Linked DNA regions of Homo sapiens: region 1 is linked to region 2. The links come from fine-mapping of genetic effects on gene expression. A gene starts in region 2. The other region holds a variant in brackets. All regions are shown on one strand. Distances are from middle to middle.

Region 1 (11,765 bases), 460 kb before region 2:
TAGAATTTGGCTCAGCTGCTGTAACAAAGATACCCTAAAAGTACAGTGGCTTAAATAATGTAGAAATTTATTTTTCTCTCATATAAAGTTCCAAGGTGTGTGGTCTAGGTATATGGAGCAGCTCTGTTCCATGTAGCCATTCAGGAACTCAGGCTCCTGTACTTTTTTTTTGTTGTTGTTGTTGATACAGAGTCTCACTCTGTCGGCCAGGCTGGAGTGCAGTGGCACAATTTCGGCTCACTGCAACCTCTGTCTTCCGGGCTCAAGCAATTCTCTTGCCTCAGCCTCCTGCGTAGCTGGGATTACAGACGTGTGCTACCACGCCTGGCTCATTTTTGTATTTTTAGTAGAGATGGGATTTTTCACCATGCTGGCCAGGCTGGTCTCAAACTCCTGACCTCAAATGATCCACCCACCTTGGCCTCCCAAAGTGCTGGGATTACAGGTGTGAGCCACCACGCCTGCGTTTTCTACTTTTTAAAATCTGTCATCCCTTAGGATATAGTCGTTGTCTATAATGAAGAAACGCCTTTGCCATTCTGAATTCCAGTTCGTTGGAAAGAGAAAGAGAGGAAGTCTGGGCAAATAATTTCCTCTTGACTCAGAAGTTGCACATACTTCCACTTATATTCCTTTAGTGAGAACTTAGTTAAATAGACATACCTCACTGTAAAGAAGACTTAGATGTGTAGTTTTAGCTTGGCAGCCTTGTTTCCAGGAAGAAGAGGAGAATAGATTTTGGTGGGTGAGTAGAAGTCTGTGCCACATTGTCTAGGATACTAGGTTCTAGAGTCAGACAGACATAAATTCCAATCTTGGCTCTGCCACTAGAGTCAAGAACAAATGATTTACCTTCTCAGTTTTCTATTGGAAAAATGGAAATAATTTCTATTATGGGATTGCTATAAGAAGTAAATTAAATGTGCAAGTACATGCAAAGTGCTTAAGAAAAAAGCATTGATGGTAAAGCACAGAGCACAGGGAATCTGACTGATTGAGTTAAAATTCTGGCTCTGCCTTTGCTAGCTATGTGCCTTTAGATAAGTTACACAGAATTCTCTGAGATCTACTTTCCTGTCTTATACAATGGAGATATTACTAGTGACTACCTCCTGGAGTTATAGAAAGGATTCAACAACATCCTCTGTGCTGGACTTATTAAAATTATTTATCCATGCATGATAAACCACCTTGATCTTCTCACGCTTATTATTATATTTGTTTATTTGTCAATTCCTGAGTTTATCTGCAAAAAAGAAGTAGTAAAATTGAAGTGTGTCAAGTTGCACCTGTCATGAGTTGCTGCATTCTTTCATACCCCTTGTTACTGTTTCCTCCTACATCCTGATAACATGTTTGTTTGTTCATGTATCTTTAGTTTGTGTTCTAGTTCCACTTTCATTTCTTGGGTAACCATCTACTGATGACTTTATATCCTAAGTCACATAGATGAAGCTATTTAGTGTGAATTCCACAGCTTGTCTCAGGTATTGAGCACATTTTTTTTTTCATAATGGCCTCAATCTCATGCAACCATTTCAGATGGCTTAAGCCAGCAAAAATCTCTCTTTGGATAGCTAAGGAATGCAGTAAACACGGGAGATACAAGGAATGATACACAACTTTCTATCCTCAGGGTTTCTGTCGTAGATCATTGCAATGACTCTGGATTACATTTTTCAGGTCAGATTTGGGGATTTATTTGCAGAACTTTACTTATCTGGTTTTATACAGATAACCTGAAACCCCTTGATTGTTCCTCTTCACCTCAAGGACCCTTCCACAAGCCCCACATGACTGCAGGTACACATTACCCATCTTGTCACCCACTACTTACAGAGCTGACATGCTGCTGCTTGGCCCCATTGTGCTATCCCTGAGTACTGTGGCATTCATCCTGGCTCCAATGGTGTAAAATGAGGGGGTATGAATGCCTTTTTCAAACTCAAGACTAGCAAAAGACAAAACCCCCTTTTGTTTGAAGCCACTGGAAATATAGTCTTAGTTCTTGCTCTTTTAGAGAAACTATGGGGTGGGCCCTTTTCTCCTCTATACCCCCACCCGCTGGCAGCAGTAGTTTTTGCATGGAGTAATTGAGCAAATCCAACGTATAAAAGGTAGGATTATCAAAGTGAATGAACGAATGCTTACCTAGCAGAACTGTAAGACATGGAAAAATAGGAAGACAAGCTAATGATCTAGAAATTGTATAGCTTTGCTGTCTTAGAATCATGGCAAATGGAACATATGGCATTGGGTCATTTTTTGCATTGATTTGAAAAGAAAATGAGTTTATTTTACAAATAAATGGAGTTTGTGTTTCTGTTTGCTATTCATGACTGTAATGTTTACTTCTCTTGAAACAGAAATCTGTCACCTAAATATTAAATATAGAGAAAGATTTTTTCAGCTATTAATGAAGAATTTTTCTTTACATGCCGTGCCTTCATCCACTTCAATAACCTTTTTATGCTTTTCCCTTTGTTTGCTATTATTTTGTCTGATGAGTTTGTCTGTGAACAGAGACATCTTAAGAGAAAAAAAGGAATTGGTGAAAAGACAGACATGTTAAAATTGTTATTTGCCTGAGCATTAGAATTTTAGATTAAGGCCTAGAATCAAATTCAGTTTATTTTCTCATAGATTTTATGATACATGTTGTTTTCATTTCCTATTTTGAGATTTAGGATAGGCCCAGAATTGTAATAAAGTTGCCATTTAAAAACCTTCCATTCATTGTTATCCTAGTAGACATGTATTATTTTTCTCTTCCAAACATCCTGTATTTCAGATAACAGAAGCCCTCTTTTCATGTAGAAATGATCCTTGCCCTATTCTCAGTTTGTGTGATCCAAGCCTAGTCATACAAAGTCTATAGTAATTGAGTTAATTATGGGTTTGTGTCTGAAGCTAGGTTAGTCTAAGTCGATTAAGAAACTTTTGAGAAAAATGGAGTTCTCTGCCCATTGACATTGCTGGGCTAGAGAAGAAAGTATGAAACTGACAGAGGTGAGCTTGGCTTCCACATGGTGAGAGTCTGCCTGAGACTGAAGCCAGCTCAGGAAAAATTGACCCAAGAGATACAGAAAGATTTCTGACCATATTGTTTGAGCATCCATGCTGGAAGTAAGATTTATTCCTGCCATCGTGTTTCTTATTTTTCCCCATCAAACTCTCTAGTTGAGTTTCTTTCTCTTGCAATTGAAAGAGTTCTGGTCAATACAAGCATCATCATTTTTCTCAGAGAGCATTTATTCGATTCCTGGGTTATTGTGTATTAACCACTTAAAAATAGTTTCACATGTAACGGGAAAATACAGTATTAATACAATGTTAGGACTGGAAGGGCGGTGGGGCGCAGTAGCTCAAGTCTGTAATCCAGGCACTTTGGGAGGCCAAGGTGGGTGGATCACCTGAGGTCAGGAGTTTGAGACCAGCCTGACCAATGTGATGAAACCTCATCTCTACTAAAAATACAAAAATTAGCCAGGCATGGTGGCACATGCCTGTAATTCTAGCTACTCCAGAGGCTGAGGCAGGAGAATTGCTTGAACCCAGGAGGCAGAGGTTGCAGTGAGCTGAGATCGCTCCACTGCACTCCAGCCTGGGCAGCAGAATGAGACTCCATCTCACACACACACACACACACACAAACTGGAAATGTTACCTAGTCCAGTCTCCCTTTTAATGCAGAATTCCCCTTAATCTCCTTCACTTATAGGCAGCCTAGAATCAAAATCACTTTAATTTTCCAAGGATTTCAAGATACAACAATGCTTTTATTTTTTATTCTTAGTTTCAGAATAGGCCCTGAATATCATTATGGTCTTTTCTTAAAAAAATTCACCACCATGTCAAGTAACTCACTCCCTTACAAACTAGTGCATTCCAATTCTGGAAAGTTCTGATTCTCAAGAAGGTTTTCTCTTTTATTGAGTTAAAATCTATTTTATTTTACTTCAGTCATAGGTCCTAATTCTGCTTGGAACCATGCAAAATAAAGTGATGGCACATCAGATAAGTGAAATGCCAGTCACATTTCTACTGTGTCTTCTTTGCTCTCAGCTACAGAACCCAAGTTCCTTCTCCCATCCTTCACAGAATGGGGATATCTACACCAGCTTGCTTGCCCTCACCTCAATTTCTTTCTTTTTGTTAAATGTGCCTTTTAACCTGGGACCAGAACTGAGCTAACACTTCCTTTGTTTTGCTCTAGACACTTACGTGAGTACAGCCTTATACTGAATTACATTTTAGGGCTTCTGTTTTATAATGAGTTTGCTGTGAACTAGTACCCTCTTTACATCCTCTCATCTCCCTTCCAACCAAACAACTCTTAAGCCAGGTCTGTGTTTGAGTTTTGACTATTTGAATCTGTATTAGGACTTTGCAAACAACCATAAGCTTTGTTCCTCTAAATATCCAACACTGTGGGAAGGGCTTTTTTTTTCCCATGTGTTTCTGCTTTATTGGTACTTTTACTGCCTAGAAGGATGTAAGACAGTGGTGAAAGAGTCAATCTGCTACTTGGGCCACTAAAATAGGCCACTGAACAGATAAGTGTATTCATTTTATCTATTAGGAACTGTATCCACATGTGGGTAAGAAAGACCTAAAAGAGTGGCCTAATCGAGACCATCCTGGCCAACATGGTGAAACCCCATCTCTACTAAAAATACAAAAATTAGCTGGGCGTGGTGGCACATGCCTGTAGTCCCAGCTACTCGGGAGGCTGAGGCAGGAGAATCGCTTGAACCTGGGAGGCAGAGGTTGCAGTGAGCCGAGATCTGCAGTGAGTTGAGATCGCACCACTGCACCACTCCAGCCACTGGCGACAGAGCAAGACTCTGTCTCAAAAAAAAAAAAAAAAAAAAAAAAAAAAGAGTGGCTTAAATACACATTATAGAAGAAGTGTGGAAAGAGGCAGCCAGAGCTGGTATGACGTTTCCATACATCCATGAAGGACTAAGCCTCCTTCTGTATTTGTCTTCTACTATCCCATTACTTGGCTTCCATGGCTTCATGGTCTAAGAGGGCTCTTTCTAATATTTTGTCCACATTCCAGACAGTAGTAGGGAAAAAGGTTGCTTCTCCAAACTGTCAGCTCCTTTTAAGGTGCTGTCTTCAAGTCCCCACAGTCTTTTCATTTATATCTCATGGGGCAGTATTTAATCATGGACACAGCTAGCTACAAGGAAGGCTGGGAAATATGGCCTTTTGTTCTGGGCAGCTGCACAACCAGCCAAAATTTGGGGTTCTACAACTACAAAAGAAGTGAAAATGGATCTTTAGAGACCACCAGCCACATTCATGGAAAACAATATTGAAGGATTTTCCTTCTTGCCTTGGAAATAAAGAGTGATAAAAGATCTACTTAATTTGGACAAATCTCCCCACTTTTAGACGAACTTTAGGTTTGGTTATGCCCTGTTTTCCTCTCCAGGAATTTCCTTCTAGCCCTATGCGAAAGGTTAAAATATAGCTGTGTTTTCAGTCCTTCCTTCTCCTTTCATTGCTGCCTAGTTAGCATTAATACAGGGACAAAGATGAAAATTGTTAGAGCTGAGTGCAAGTTTGAATTAAATCTAACCCCTTCTTTCATGCACCAAGTATGAGGTCTAGTCTTTCCTTCCTTAATAACAACTGGCAATAGTTAAACCTTATATAATGTTTAATACAGGCAGTCCTTGTTTTGCATAGTTCTGATATGCACAAATTTCACTTACTACAGTTTAATTAAATAACACCAGTCCCTCAACAATATGATTCAAATTTTAGTTACCACATATATTAGCTGTGAGCAATTGCATGAAGTACAGACTTTGCTGCTAGCTCTTTAGTTCCACCAAGTCACTATATAAGTAACAGATGTGCATCATGATTGGTGACTAATCCGTCACTTCTTTCGAAGTCTTTCAGTGATTGGTCACTGTGCATCTGTTATTTAGTTCACAAACAGACAACAAAGTGTGGAGTTTATTATCTTGTTTCTTAGTGGTAAACCTGAGCAACATTGTACAAATGTGGAAAATTGAAAGAGGGAATTGGCCAAAAGAAAAAAAGAAGATGCAAAAAAGAAACGAAAAAATAGGGCCGGGCGTGGTGGCTCATGCCTGTAATACCAGCACTTTCGGAGGCTGAGGTGGGTGGATCACGAGATCAGGAGATCAAGACCATCTTGATCTCTTGATCAATGTGGTGAAAACCCGTCTCTACTAAAATACAAAAAAATTAGCCAGGCGTGGTGGCATGTGCCTGTAATCCCAGCTACTTGGGAGGCTGAGGCAGGGGAATTGCTTGAACCTGGGAGGCGGAGGTTGTGGTGAGCTGAGATTGCGCCACTGCACTCCAGCCTGGCGACAGAGCAAGACTCCGTCTCAAAAAAAAAAAAAAAAAAA[G/AAG]AAAAAAGAAAAAATGATAACACTGGAAATGAAGTTTGAATCAAACATAAATGTAGTTACAGAAGAAACAGCTGATCATGGGAATGTTGACACTACTGCCTTTTGAAAGACACGCAATCAGAAGAATCTGTTCAAGGCAAAGTTACTGACATAAATGAGGAAGGTGGTTGTAATGAAGGGATCAACATATCCCAGAGGAAATGATTCTGGAAAAAATCTTCACATTAAAGGAACCCTTGGAGATATTTTGTGGCATTGAAAGCGTAAGGGATAAAATGTTGGAAGCTGACCCAAACTTTGAAAGGAGTATGACAATTTGCCAAGGCATAGGAAAGATGCTCACTCCATATTGTAAATTATATGATGATAAAAAAGCAAGCATTGTTCAAATGAATATTGTTAAGCTCTTTACAAATAAATCAAGCATTTTATTCTCAATGTTACTAACACTTTAGATCAACATAGAAAACAAACATTCATTTTACTATTTCTTCCATTTTTCTTCATATTTATAACCAATAGGGAGAGAGTTTTTTAATGTTTTGACAATATTTTTAAAGGTCAAGGAAATATGATAATTTTTCCTGTTCATTATTAAAAAGTTTGGCACAGTTTCAACTTGCATGGCCATTTTTATGATCCTGCACTACAGTGCAAAGTGAGGATGGCCTGAAGTTCATGGAGTTACACTGTTTAATATTCACAACAATTCTGCAACTCAGGGCAGATATTGTCACTCCCCTTTTTATTTTGAATGAAAATCACAGAGATTAATTAAGTTCAAAATTGCACAGCTAAGTAACCTGCAGGTCTGGAACCAAGGCAGTTTCACTTTAAATTTTGTGCTTCTTATACCCTCACTACCACAACACCCACATTCTTTCCGATTAATCCCATTGAGATGTGAGGTATAAACAGGGAAAATGTCCCAGATGTTAAGGCCTCAACAATCTAATGTGTTTTGTGTCACATTACACTGATTGTGGATCAGTTAGTGTCCTTATGTCACAAGCAACAAACACCAAGCCCAACATGGTAGATTGCTTACAGTAAGAGACCCCAGTGATTCATTTTTTCTTGTATCCACTTTTCTTGGAAAGGTTTCTTGGTCACTTCTCTAATTAAGATGGAATCTATTCTCCTATCCCTTGAATCTAGGCTGATTTAAAAATTATATTTGACGAATAGAATGTAGGAAAAGGGAAGTTGCAGTTTTTCCTTTCATCCTCTCAGAACATTTCTCCATCATGCAATGAAGCCTTGTTTAATTTACTTGAGAATGAGAGGACACAGGGAGAACTAAGGTGCTCCAGCCGGCACTTCATTTGGTTTCTACAAAGTGAGCGAGTGAGGCCATTTGGGATCAGTCAGCCCCCAGCTGATCTGCCCACTGATTGCAGATGCTTAAGTGAATCCAGCTGACACCACATGGAGCGGAGCTACACCATCCCATCTGAGCCCTATCCTAATTGCCAATTCATAGAATGGTGAGTATATAAATGATTATTATCTTAAGCTGTTAAGTTTTGGAATGGATTGTTATGTGGCAAACCACTAAAGTAAAAAAGGGAATTTACTGGACGAATATGGGGTTGTTTGCAGGATTGAAGGGAAAGCTGAAGAACAGAAAACTTTGTAGAAGAAATTACTGCTTCTAGAGAGAATGAATGCTAGCTGTTTGTTTTGCTCCTGTGTTGTTCTGCTAGAGAAGTCCTGGGGGAGAAAAGTTGGTAGGTCACATGTCCATCCTATGGATGTATTGATTTATGAAGGGAAAGCCTGGAAGAAGAAACTTTCTGGTTCTTCTTAAACTTTGTAGTTTGGGGAGGCAAACACTTAGATTTATCCCCCCAAATTGAATGCAGATACTTCTAAAAGAAATCAGGTGTTGTAAAAGAGGAGGAGTGGATGCTGGACATCTTCAGAATGACAACTGTCCATTAGAGTAACTTCTCTGATGAAGGTTTAAAAACATTTTTTTTTTTTTTTTTCTGAGACAGGGTCTCACTCCATCACCCAGGCTGGAGTGCAGTGGCATGATCTCGGCTCACTGCAACCTCTGCTTCCCAGGTTCAAGCGATTCTCCTGACTCAGCCTCTTAAATGGCTGGGATTACAGGTGTGCGCCACCACGCCTGGCTAATTTTTGTATTTTTAGTAGAGACCGGGTTTCACCATGTTAACCAGGATGGTCTCAAATTCCTGACCTCGTGATCTGCCCGCCTCGGCCTCCCAAAGTGCTGGGATTACAGGCGTGAGCCACCGCGCCTGGCCCTTGAAAACATTTAAAAGTCTACACAGTTTGTTATTTCATGGCAAATAAGTTGTGGGAAATTGAAGGAATTTTATACCCACATAGTAGGCTTATAATTCAACATATGGAGAGAAATTGCATCTTAGACTCATAGAAGATTAAATGTATAAAGGACATTAGAACTCAGTGAGGCCAAGCCCCTCAGTTTATAGATGAAGAAACTGAGTCAAAGGTGATTAGGTGAAGGGTAAATTAAGGTCATGACAAAACCAGGACTAGAACCTGGATTTAAAAAAATAGCCTTAGTGGGATTTGGGAAGGAAAAGAAAATGCATGTGGTATGTTTGAAATTTGCATTACCTTTCTTTTTGGGTATTCTTAGAGTCAAGACTCTTTTGAAAGCCTCCCCTGACTATGTGTGGTGCTCTCCTATCCTCCCTCCTGACCCTCCCACTACCCATCATTTCTTTCCCATTCCCAAACTCATTCAAGGGTGTGTTTCAGACAAATATTGCTCTGGGACAATCTAACCCTGAAAAATCAGAAAAGGTTGACTGACATCCAACAGCCAAGCCAACTGGCGCTTGAGTCAGGGTAACATTGTCCTGTCAAGATTGAAACATTCTTAAAACTTCATCTTGGTAGCAGCTACACTGTATTTTCCATTTTTTTGAACCTCCTAGATTTTTGAAGGATATTTGCATAAAAATAGCATTTTCGGCTAGGCGCAGTTGGTCATGCCTGTAATCCCAGCACTTTGGGAGGCCAAGGTGGGTGGATCACAAGGTCAGCTGTTTGAGACCAGCCTGACCAACATAGTGAAACCCCATCTCTACTAAAAATACAAAAAAATTAGTTGGGCGTGGTGACAGGCACCTGTAATCCCAACTACTCAGGAAGCTGAGGCAGGAGAATCACTTGAACCTGGGAGGTGGAAGTTGCAGTGAGTCAAGATCGTGCCACTACACTCCAGCTGGGGTGACAATGCGAGACTCTGTCTCAAAAAAAAAAAAAAAAAAAAAAGCATCTTCACACTCTTGGCAGTTCCTGAGGAGTACTGTTCCTTTAAACTCTTAATCCTGTTAGTGAGGCATGTCGATTAGACTGTATCATGGGAGATTATGGCATCTGAGAAGAAATAGCCAGTTGGAGAAGCTGAAACTCTGTATGAACATAGACCTATCTAGGAAAAAACACTCTGATTGCTATTAATGAAAACCATTATAAGAAATAAAAACAAGAGGGTAATGGGAAAGAACATATAGATGGAAAAATATTGCAAAATTGAGTTTAAAGAGTATTTGGATCTAAGATCTGGAAGAATAATAAGAAATCAGTAACAGTGGTTGCCTCTGGGAAGGAGAACGGGTGGCTGGAGATCTGGATAGGAGAGGTACTTTTCAGTTGTGAACATGTCTCGAAATGTATTGCCTGCTCAGAAGGAAATCAACGAAGTAAGTATGAAGTGCTGCAAATAGTTACTTTACCAAAAGCAAGTATTTGGATTTGAGAACTTCCATTGTGTTTGTTAACATTTCAAACACGTTTTATAAATGGCTTTGGGGAAGGAGTTTTAAAAGCATCTCATTTAGCTTTGTTCTCTTGACTAATTATTAAGTAATATGGTGTCTCAGTTTGTTTTGTGCTGCTATAACAGAATACCACAGACTGGGTAATTGATAAAGAACAGAAGTTTATTTCTCACAGTTCTGAAGGTGAGGGGTCTAAGGTCCGGGGGCCAGCATCTGAAGAGGACCTTCTTGCTGCATTATTCCAATGTGGAAGGCGGAAGGACAAGAGAGTGTGGGAGTAGGGAGGGGGAAGGAAGGGGGCCAAACCACTCCTTTCACTCCTTTCCTTGCTAACAAATTAATACACTCATGAGGGCAAAGCCCTCATGACCCAATCACCTCTTAAATTCCCACCTCTCAACACTGTTGCATTGGGAATTGTTTCTGACACATGAACTTTGGGGGGCACATTCAAATCATAGCATATGGGGTTTTCTTTGCCTAAACATTTGGTTGTTGCTACCCTTAAGGGTTTTCTTTTTTCCCTCAATACATCATTTCAGTATTTTCTACTTTGGCATTAATCGATTTTTTAGTCCTGTTGAAGACTGACAAATAAATAAAATCCCATTTTCCATCTTTGTAGTCTTCTTGCACACTATTGGATAATTTAAAAATACTTCCCAACCCCCTTTTTTTAATTGTATCTCCCTTCTCCTCTTAAAATGTGGTCTTTCTATGTAATGGACCAATTGTTCTCCTGCTAAGGTAGATTATTTTGCCATTTGTTGGCTGTTTCAGTGTGTAATGAGTTAGTTAAATCAAGGTTTGTGACTCTAAAGGTTCCACACTGGCAAATATGGAGATAGCGGTTCTCAGTGGGTTCAGCTTAATGGAGATTTTTCCATTTTGAAAGACATGATCTTTGATGTTTTTACCATGGTTTTGCCTCCTCTAGAAATAATACCAGGGTTGCCTTTATTTCTGATAGGAGAGGGTCTATAGAAAGAAAGGATGTTGGCTTCAAGGTACAGGTTTTGGCAGATTCAGTGCCATCTCATTGGTTACAAAGCCTTCCTGGAAAGCATGCAATTATCCAGCTTGCACAGCACAATTAAGTAAACAATTCATTTAGTCTCTCTATCCATTGCAGAGGGACTGGGGTGGCTTGGGAGATTGGAAATGGGAGCTGTAGCCTTTTCTTTTGACGTAGGTGATTTGGATCTGTTAGCGTAGTGACCACAGAGTGTTTCCATCTGATGGCTGTGTGGCGACCCATGTAAAACAGACTGGTGGTTTCAGGCCCTTGGAGAGGCAGTCACATCTCAACATCCAGGATCCCAGCTGGCAGAAATATGTGAGGATTATACCGACGTGATTCTATTCAGTTTGTGCCTTAGTGAAATTCGTATCTTGAAAATCCTGCTTGAATCAAAGTGAGATTTAGTGTACCTTCGTAAAGCTCTGAGCGAAGGTCTCAGCCTTCTACGTTTGTTGTATGATTAGCACACTTGGCCTGTTTACTTTGGCTTAGAGGCTTTAGGAATCTTTAGGTTTTTAAGATTTCTCCCAGTTCTCTCCAACATTTGTGAATGCCAGGGAT
Region 2 (9,016 bases):
GTCACTCTCGCTGCACAAACTTTCCCGCGGGCCGCGCCGCGCGTGCAGGGGCTGGACGCCACCCGGCGCCAGAGCCGGGCCTGAGGAGCGGGGTCTGGCCGGGAACGAGGGCTGCCAGCCTGGGTGGTGTCATTTGTTGCTTCATTTTTCATTCCCTTTCCTCTCGTGAGGAATCAGAGGCATCGGGCCGCGCGGGCTGAGAATTCTTAAATTCTCCCCGGCCGCATTCGGCTGAGCCAACCCGCAGTTCCTGTCAGCCCCTCTGTCCCCCGGGCAGCGGTTTTCCCCGCTAGCCAGGTTTGGAAGTCACCCTCTGTGAGACTGGGTTAGGAAGTGACGAAAAGCGCCGAATTGTTTTCAAATTGAAAATACTTTTTTTTTTTTTTTTGGAGATAGCGCTGACAAATATATGGGATCCCGGCTTTTGATCCCTGGCTGCCGCCTCTGTTCTCCTGTCGCTAATAAAACTCGCATTGAGCCCCTTAGTGCCTTGATTAACAGGCAGATTAACTCTTACTGGGGTTGGGAACAGCTTGTCCTAATCAATGTCATTTTAAAAGCCCGTCAGGATGCGCTTAGCTTCGGTTCCCTGGATGCTTGAGCGAGCCAGCCATGACATTTGCTCCCTCCCCCTCCCCAGCCTCAAATCCCCCAGTAAAGCCCCCAGTTCCCGCCTGCCTGTTCCCAGGTCTACAACGGGACAAATCGCAGGACCGGGTCGTTGGCCTTTAGAATAGGCAGCGGTTTAGAGAGGGGATATCCAGGGAGAAGGGACTGAGGTGGCCTTGACTTGCTTGCTTTTCCTTTGAAGCTGAACTCTTGCCTCTTGGGGGCAGAGGTTACAGGGAAAAGAGAGATGGGGGGATCGTCACAGGGTGATGAAATGGAAAGCAAACTTTTCTAGGAACCCTATTTGCAAAAATCGGAGAGTGCCGCTGATTTCAGTTGTCCTACATGTCAGGAGTTTTAAACCTAACTCCTATCTGGACAACAGCATGGAGGGACTGGGAGGCAAAGCCTTGGGAGTCTGACCCGCTGGGCTGCTAGGAATCCCTTTGCTGGGAGACTCCACTGGACAATGTTATTTTAAAGGTATTTTGGGGGTGGGCAGGGAGAAGACAGAGAGAGAAAGAGAGAGAGAGAGAGAGAGAGAGAGAGAGAGAGAGAGACAGGCTGGCCTCCCAGAGCGAACGGAAGAGGACTGAGGACTGAACCCAGGGAGCCCCTAGCACTGGCCATTTGGCAGGAGGCGAGGAAGGGCGAGGGCACCGCGGCTTCCCCCCAAGCCGAGCAGTGGCCACAGCCTGAAGGTGCCACGGGGCGGCTCTGGGATCTTCTTGGCTTTTCTAGGCTCTGGGCTCGGCGAGGCTGCCGGGTTAGCGGGAACCGGCAGGTTGCTGGAGAAAGGAGAGGGACAAAGGCCTGGAAGTGGGGGAGGCACCAGGGACTGGGCGGCCGGGATGGGAGCCTTTGCCTTTAGGGCTCACTGGACCCGTTTGCCAGCTCCGCGGACAAGGGATCCCACCTTCCCAGGGTCTGCAAAAAGAGAGACGTTTGGGGCACTACAAAGTGACGCAGGTGTCTGCCAAGACTTTCCTTCTCCAAAAAATGCCAGTCTTCACCCTTTCCAGCGCGCCGGCGCTGCGCCTCTGCTTGACCGGGGAAAGAGAGAGTTTGGAGGTGTCAGAACTGTCAGAACTCCGGATGGGAGGCTCTTGGTTCTGAAGCTGGGAGCTGGAGGCACTTCCCCCCAGAAGTGGGCACTTCTTTGCCTCCCCGAAGGCCTGATGGGGTGGGCACAGGGGAATGCCAGGGATCGGTGCGGGTGAGATGCTTGCCTCACCTCATGTTGACGCATCAATACTGGCTAGAAGCTCTGGGCAGGCTCTGGCGAGCCACGGTCCCCCAGCGGGACTCCCTCCACGCAGACAGCCCCGCTACCGGGTGGGACGACCCCGGCGGCCCCCGCGGGAACGCACCCGCCGGCCTGAGAGGTCCTCCCTCTGGCCACAGGGGGCGGAGGGTAGGGGGGAACAGGGGCCTGTGGGGAGGCGGGGAAAGGAGACAGAACCTAAAGCGCAATCCCCGCCGCCCCCCCGCGTCTTGGAGGGCAGCAAGTGGGCCTCGGGCGTGTTGGTAGCCGCAATTAAAATGGCGACCTGCGAGTTGTCTCGGTTTTGTACACACCTCTGGCAACCGCGCCCGCACCTCAGTCTCGGCCCCCACACCCCTAGGCCGCTTCGCCCCCAGAGCCGGTACTTGGCAGAGGGAGTGAGGCTCCCCACGAGGTAGAACAGCACCCCCACCTTCCTTGAGACCAGTCCAGAGAGAACGAGGAAATCTCACTCTCACCCCTCTCTCCTTAAACTTTGAAAACTCGGCCTCATTCTGGGGTTGAACTCCCCTCCCCAAATATTGACACATGGGAAGCAGCCAAGTCCTTTTTGTTTTTTGTTTGTGCGGAGGAGTTTCCAGGAGTCTTTCCCGGAGCCCCCTTCCCCACCCAATGACGTCAGTGGCATTCACTCCTCGCTCCTTGCCTTTTCTGATTTTTTGTTAAAACTTTTCTCCGCAGCGAGATGGGGGTTGGAGGGGTGGGAGAAGGAGCTGATTCAAAGAGCCAGTGCCCTGGGGGGAAATAGCAACAAGATTACGGCTGCTTCTTTCCGAGGCAAAGCTTAAGAAGGTGCTAATCCACTCGGTCGCTAATTGAGAGGTTGTAAAAATGATACTCGCCTCCAGTTCGGACAGAATCACTTCCCCCCCCCCCGCCCCCCCGCAAGTCCCTCGCTCATGCACAGCGGACTTGAGTCTTGAGTCCAAGCTTCTTTAATGCTCGCTTGGAAAGTAAAAGGAGAGAGAAAGAGAAAGCCGACTTTCGCTGGTCTGGGACTCAGGGCCGCGGCCCCACTTGCCGGCATCCTCCGAAAGTCGCGCTCCTGCGAAATGAAACCTCGCCCAGGAGGCCGCGGACCTGGACACCCGGCGCCACCTCCTTCACCTCTGACCCAGGTTTCCTCCCGGCGCTGCGAGCTCCCGGGGAAGGGTTAGAGCCGGCAGCCCTCCCCAGCCCGGGGAGGGGAGAGGGTTATGCGACCCCACCTCTGGCTAGGGCCGGGGAGGCCTTTGCTTCCCGGGAGCCCTGCCCGGGCTCCTTGGTCGCAGGGCTGCTGGGTCCCAGGCAGGAACGAGAGGGTGAGGCCCACATGTGGCCCGGCGGCCCAGGGCGGCTTGCAGCGTCCTCACTGTCCCGGCTGCCAGGGGCTGCGGCGACGCGGCCAGTCAGCAGCGAGTTCAGGTCGCGCAGATTTTATTGATGAGCTCTGACTTTCAGCACTTTCCCTAAGTCAAGAAGAGTCTAGCGTACCCTTCGGCTGCTTCATTTCAGCCTCCCTGCCTCAGCTCTTCAGCCCTATTCCCCCTCGCCCTGTCCTGGGGTGTGTACAGCAGCCCAGGCCTTCCTTCTCCTTCCCGGCTCCGTGGCCCGAAGCCGCCGAGAGAGCTCGGGACAGCGCAGGACCAGGCAGCCGCTCGCTCTCCTGTCACCTTAACTGCAGGCTCCGAGGGGCGCCTTTGGAGTGTACTGAGGTGTGTCCTAATCGTGCGGCATTCAACAAATGGACTTCTGGTGTGTGGTCAGAAGAGAAAAGCCATTTACTTACTTTCCTCCCCGGTTTTCTGGCAACAGCTGAAGGGGAGCTGCCTCCGTGGACTGAGCAGACCCAGGAGAGGGAGTCGTGGTGCGGAGACACACGCACCACACACAGATGACCGGTGGCACACACGACACACGCTGACATACCGACATCGCCAGTGGGACACACACACACACACACACACACACACACACACACACAGAGAGAGAGAGAGAATCCCTCCCAGCATTGGTCATCCGCCCCCCCACCCAGGCTTCCACTCCCCCTCCCCTCTTATCTCCCCTGGCTTCCCCTCCTCTCGGGCGCTGCGAAAAGCAGCCGCACTTAGTCAACAAATGGCACGTGGGAGAAGTTGGTGAGTGTTTGGTGAGGACTCTTCAGGGCTTTTCACAAGAACCCTCTGTACACAAAGTAAGTGGCGTGTTTACTCGGGCCTCTCCAGCCAGAGCTGTGCCTCTGCTCCGCTGCGCACCGCGGCTTCCGAAAGGAGAAAGGAGAGAAGAAAGGGCGGGGAGAGCGGGGTGGAGGATTTGGACAGGCCCTGGAGGCTTGGGCTGGGGAGGCCTCTGGCCTCGTTTAGTTCTCGGCCCGGCAACCTCCTCTCGGCCTAGGCTTCGCCGCGGCCTCCGCAGCTGGAATGGAGCTGCCAGGACCCAGTGACGCTCCCGCCCCTTTCCTCTTCTTCCAAGGGGCCAGGTGGGCTGGGGTGCGGCCGCCGCTGTGCTCTGTGTCTTGGGGCCCCGGCTGGGATGGGGTGGGGGCGGGCGGGGGCGGGGCGGCAGGCCACGCTGTCCTGGAGTTGGCAAGAAAGGACAGCACAGAAACTTGCACCCTCCGAGGACTGGGAGTCCCGAGTCCAGCTTAGGGGGAGTGGGGGCGCGACCCCCAACCCAGAAACCTTCACTTGACCGCTCAAGTTCGCGGCAGCAGGGCGGGCCGCGCCGAATCTCGGCGTGCGCGGAGCGGGGAGATGCAGGCGAGCGCCAGAGCCCGGGCTCGGGGGCCCTGCGCCGGGGAGAGGAGCCGGGACCCACCGGCGGAGCCGAAAACAAGTGTATTCATATTCAAACAAACGGACCAATTGCACCAGGCGGGGAGAGGGAGCATCCAATCGGCTGGCGCGAGGCCCCGGCGCTGCTTTGCATAAAGCAATATTTTGTGTGAGAGCGAGCGGTGCATTTGCATGTTGCGGAGTGATTAGTGGGTTTGAAAAGGGAACCGTGGCTCGGCCTCATTTCCCGCTCTGGTTCAGGCGCAGGAGGAAGTGTTTTGCTGGAGGATGATGACAGAGGTCAGGCTTCGCTAATGGGCCAGTGAGGAGCGGTGGAGGCGAGGCCGGGCGCCGGCACACACACATTAACACACTTGAGCCATCACCAATCAGCATAGGTGTGCTGGCTGCAGCCACTTCCCTCACCCACACTCTTTATCTCTCACTCTCCAGCCGCTGACAGCCCATTTTATTGTCAATCTCTGTCTCCTTCCCAGGAATCTGAGAATTGCTCTCACACACCAACCCAGCAACATCCGTGGAGAAAACTCTCACCAGCAACTCCTTTAAAACACCGTCATTTCAAACCATTGTGGTCTTCAAGCAACAACAGCAGCACAAAAAACCCCAACCAAACAAAACTCTTGACAGAAGCTGTGACAACCAGAAAGGATGCCTCATAAAGGTGAGTCCGCTTCTTTCTTCTCGCTTTATTTTTATTGCAATATTCAGACAGGTCTCCCCCTTCCTCCCCCCTTCCTTCCTCCCCTCTCGCCGGTCCCCTCCCCCACTGCTACGCCGGGAGAGTTGGGCCGGAGAAGTTTCCACGCAGGAGCCCAAACTTTCTACTTCCAGCGAAAGCCCGCGTCGGAGGGCGACTGCCGGCGAGCGGGAGCGGCGCAGGGCTCGGGGCGGGCGGCCAGCTCAGCCCCAGCGCCAGCGCCAGCGCCAGCGCGGGCTGAGCTCGCGGGAAGAAGGGAGACTCCAGGCGCGACAGCAGCCGCGGCTCCTAGCCCCAGCGTCGCCCAATGCTCCCGACCCGCGGGAAAAGACGAAGAGGCTCTGTGGTGCCCAAGGCCCTGGAACGGCCGCAGAGAGCAACCGCTGCCGGCTGCTTTGTCCAGCCCGAGGCCCAGCGAACGCGCAGAGAGCGGGCGCTCCGAGGACTCGCCGAGGGAGCGCCGAGGGAACCTGCTCGCCGCGTCTCCGCCCGCCCGCCGGCCCTCGGGCTTTGTGCCGCACTGGGCTCCGGCGCAGAAGAGTCAGCCGGCACTCGAGCGCCGAGGGGGGCACCGCGCCCGCCACCAGCCCGAGTGGAGTCAGTCGGCAAGGCAGCCGCACGCTGGAGGTAGAGGGAAGAGCGAGCTAGCGCGAGCCGGGAAGGAAGCCACCAGGCCAAGGCGGTGGAACGCGCGCTCCGAGGGAGCTCAGAGCCGAGCGGGAGGACTGTCAGCTTCCACCCAGCCCCCGGGCTCTTGCCCCCAACTCCACTGGAGCGCTGAGCTCGGAACTTGAAAACTCTCTGCTCCCCAGGCTTCCCCCGACTCTCATCTCCCTTGCCTTGCGGAGGCTGGGGCTCTTCCCTGTTCTCCGGCCCCCTGCGCTTGGTGGGTATTTTTCCTTGTTTTCCTCTGATCCAGTCTCACCAGGTGTTGGGATTTCAGCAAGTTTTGAGGTGCAGAGTTGGTTTGCTTTTTTGTTTGTTTTACTCCGAATCCCCTTATGTTTTTCTTGGTAAGGCCTTGAAAATAAATCTGTATGAAAGCATTGGCCTTCCCCCTCGTCTGATCACTTCTTCTCCCGGCTAATTAGTCGGAGTAATTTGAGAGCTTTCGATTCTAAGATCCCAGGAGGAAAAGTGTCTTTTCAAAGTTCATAAAGTTGTTGCCTCTTTCCTTGTGCAGATTTTCTCAGTCTCCCTGCGCCATAATAGCCCTGAATTTTAGCAAGTGTAATTGGGGGAAATGGAGTTGAATTTCAAGTGGAAATGCTTTCTTTTTCGAGTGCTAAAACCTGGCTCTTCATTCATGAGCGATTTCTAGAAAGTTTAAAAACAAAGTGAACGTGGTTTCTTTCTTTCTTCCTTTTTATTTTTCTTATACTCTCCCAAGCTCCCTAAGCCATTCTGGACGTTTAACTCGAACTTGGGAAGGTTTTAGAAGGGGCTGGGAGCAGAAAATGAAATGAAAGGCAAAGAGCTTGAGCCTGGCGAGTTTACTGAAGAGAAATAATAGTTGTTGCGGTTGACATTACATTTTTTATAGCCAGTGACCTTTGCAAAAGCGTGAAGGCAGTTTGATTAGTTGTTATCTTATTTGGCCCTAGAGAGTAAAACTTTGTCATCATAATTGCTAATTACTCTTTTGGCTGGGGGCGGGAGGACCGAGAGCTCTCCCCTTTACCTCAGTTAAAGAGTTTGGGGATGGAATTTGAGAATTAAGTAATTAAAAAAAGAACAGCATTTGAAAACTGAGGCTTGTGTTGGGGACAGAGAGGTGGGGGCAGTGACCACTCTCTTGTGGTCCAAGGCTGGGGCGACTCCAAAATGTCTGGAGACTCCTTCGTTCAGGATGTGGTTCTATGGCCCCAGCGAGGCCGTACAGAGCCTCGGGCTGAGCTGGGGGGCTGAGGCTGCAGTTGGGGGTCTGACCTCTCCGGTGCACAGGACTGCTTCCGGGTGTCGATGTGCCCCACTTCCCGGGTTGCTTCTGCACTTAGTGTTCACGTTTACTTAAGTAATTAGATAGCTTCTTAGCGAGAGGGAAGTGGGAATGGAGCAGAACTGGAATTTGAAATACTACCACCTTCCCAGCTGCTTCGAAAACTAATCAACGAGGCCTCTTTGTGCTCAGCTACTGAATTTAAAAAAAAATGGTATCAAGAAGTTACAAGCCAGGATGGGAGCATTCTGTTGTGATTGTGCACAGCGTGGGTTACAAAGTGGAGTTCTGGAAGTTTTACCCCTCCTAGGGGAATTCCATTCCCCATCTCCCCACCTACTACTCCTTTGCAGCTTCAGGGTCCTGCATTTGTTGGGGTGGGGTATTTTGCATTAGAGTTGGAGATTTTGCCTATCCAGGGCATGGCTATGGGTGCCGGGACTGAGAGACAGGAAGGAAGCATTGGAGAGCCAACCTAGATAAGGGTAACTAGTAACCCTCTGCTGTGGCCAGTATTTACCCAATGCTGAGAAAAAGTCCTCATTTTCGGTTTATTTTTATGGATTTAAGCTGTCTACCAAGTAGTTAAAAAGTAGACCAGGAATGGCCTTGTAGAGTAAAATGTGCTTCTTGAAATTCTTTGCTTGCAGGCAGGCAGATCAATAATCACCATAGGTAAAACAGAAAAAATAATGCATTTAAAAAAAAACAGAGAGAAATGATGCTGTGACTGTTTTGTTATTTTACCTCTTTTTGGGGGGCAGACCTCTTGAATGGGCTCTTTATTGTAACTCTCTCTTCCCAATTGAGCTCCCCACGGTGCCGTTGTATCTTTTTACAGCCCCTAACAACTCACACCAGTAACACAATTACCTCCAGATATTTACAACAAGAAATTACTTTTCTATTTTCTCCACTCACCCAAAAGACTTTTTTTTTTTTTCCTTTGGGAAAGGTAGGGAGGTGTTCGTACGGGAGCAGCCTCGGGGACCCCTGCACTGGGTCAGGGCTTATGAAGCTAGAAGCGTCCCTCTGTTCCCTTTGTGAGTTGGTGGGTTGTTGGTACATTTGGTTGGAAGCTGTGTTGCTGGTTAGGGAGACTCGGTTTTGCTCCTTGGGTTCGAGGAAAGCTGGAGAATAGAAGCCATTGTTTGCCGTCTGTCGGCTTTGTCGACCACGCTCACCCCCTCCTGTTCGTACTTTTTAAAGCAGTGAGGCGAGGTAGACAGGGTGTGTCACAGTACAGTTAAAGGGGTGAAGATCTAAACGCCAAAAGAGAAGTTAATCACAATAAGTGAGGTTTGGGATAAAAAGTTGGGCTTGCCCCTTTCAAAGTCCCAGAAAGCTGGGAGGTAGATGGAGAGGGGGCCATTGGGAAGTTTTTTTGGTGTAGGGAGAGGAGTAGAAGATAAAGGGTAAGCAGAGTGTTGGGTTCTGGGGGTCTTGTGAAGTTCCTTAAGGAAGGAGGGAGTGTGGCCCTGCAGCCCTCCCAAACTGCTCCAGCCTATGCTCTCCGGCACCAGGAAGTTCCAAGGTTCCCTTCCCCTGGTCTCCAAACTTCAGGTATTCCTCTCCCCTCACACCCCTTCAACCTCAGCTCTTGGCCTCTACTCCTTACTCCACTGTTCCTCCTGTTTCCCCCTTCCCCTTTTCCTGGTTCTTTATATTTTTGCAAAGTGGGATCCGAACTTGCTAGATTTTCCAATTCT

Which allele goes with the higher level. Positions count from the first base shown, and alleles are read on the strand shown. Sizes are in standard deviations (SD) of each study's normalised expression.
For the expression in monocytes after LPS of the gene that starts at base 4,838 in region 2, allele G in region 1 goes with a higher level than allele AAG (small effect, 0.39 SD a copy in Fairfax 2014).

What was found.
Region 1: its variant is fine-mapped to the expression of PAX6 in monocytes after LPS (Fairfax 2014, PIP 0.91).

Annotation. Positions count from the first base shown.
Region 1 is chr11:32,270,137-32,281,901 of GRCh38, reverse strand. No RefSeq gene overlaps it. Among named protein-coding and RNA genes, the nearest start is that of SNORA88, 130 kb to the right of the region's middle. The variant G/AAG (reference allele first, on the strand shown) is at 6,399.
Region 2 is chr11:31,807,144-31,816,159 of GRCh38, reverse strand. It overlaps PAX6 (paired box 6), which reads left to right and starts at 4,838. Exons shown (of 14, transcript NM_001368894.2): 1 at 4,838-5,045; 2 at 5,145-5,332. RefSeq lists enhancers at 1-565, 2,627-3,595, 4,943-5,000, 4,703-5,272, a silencer at 1,529-1,783 and a promoter at 4,646-5,055.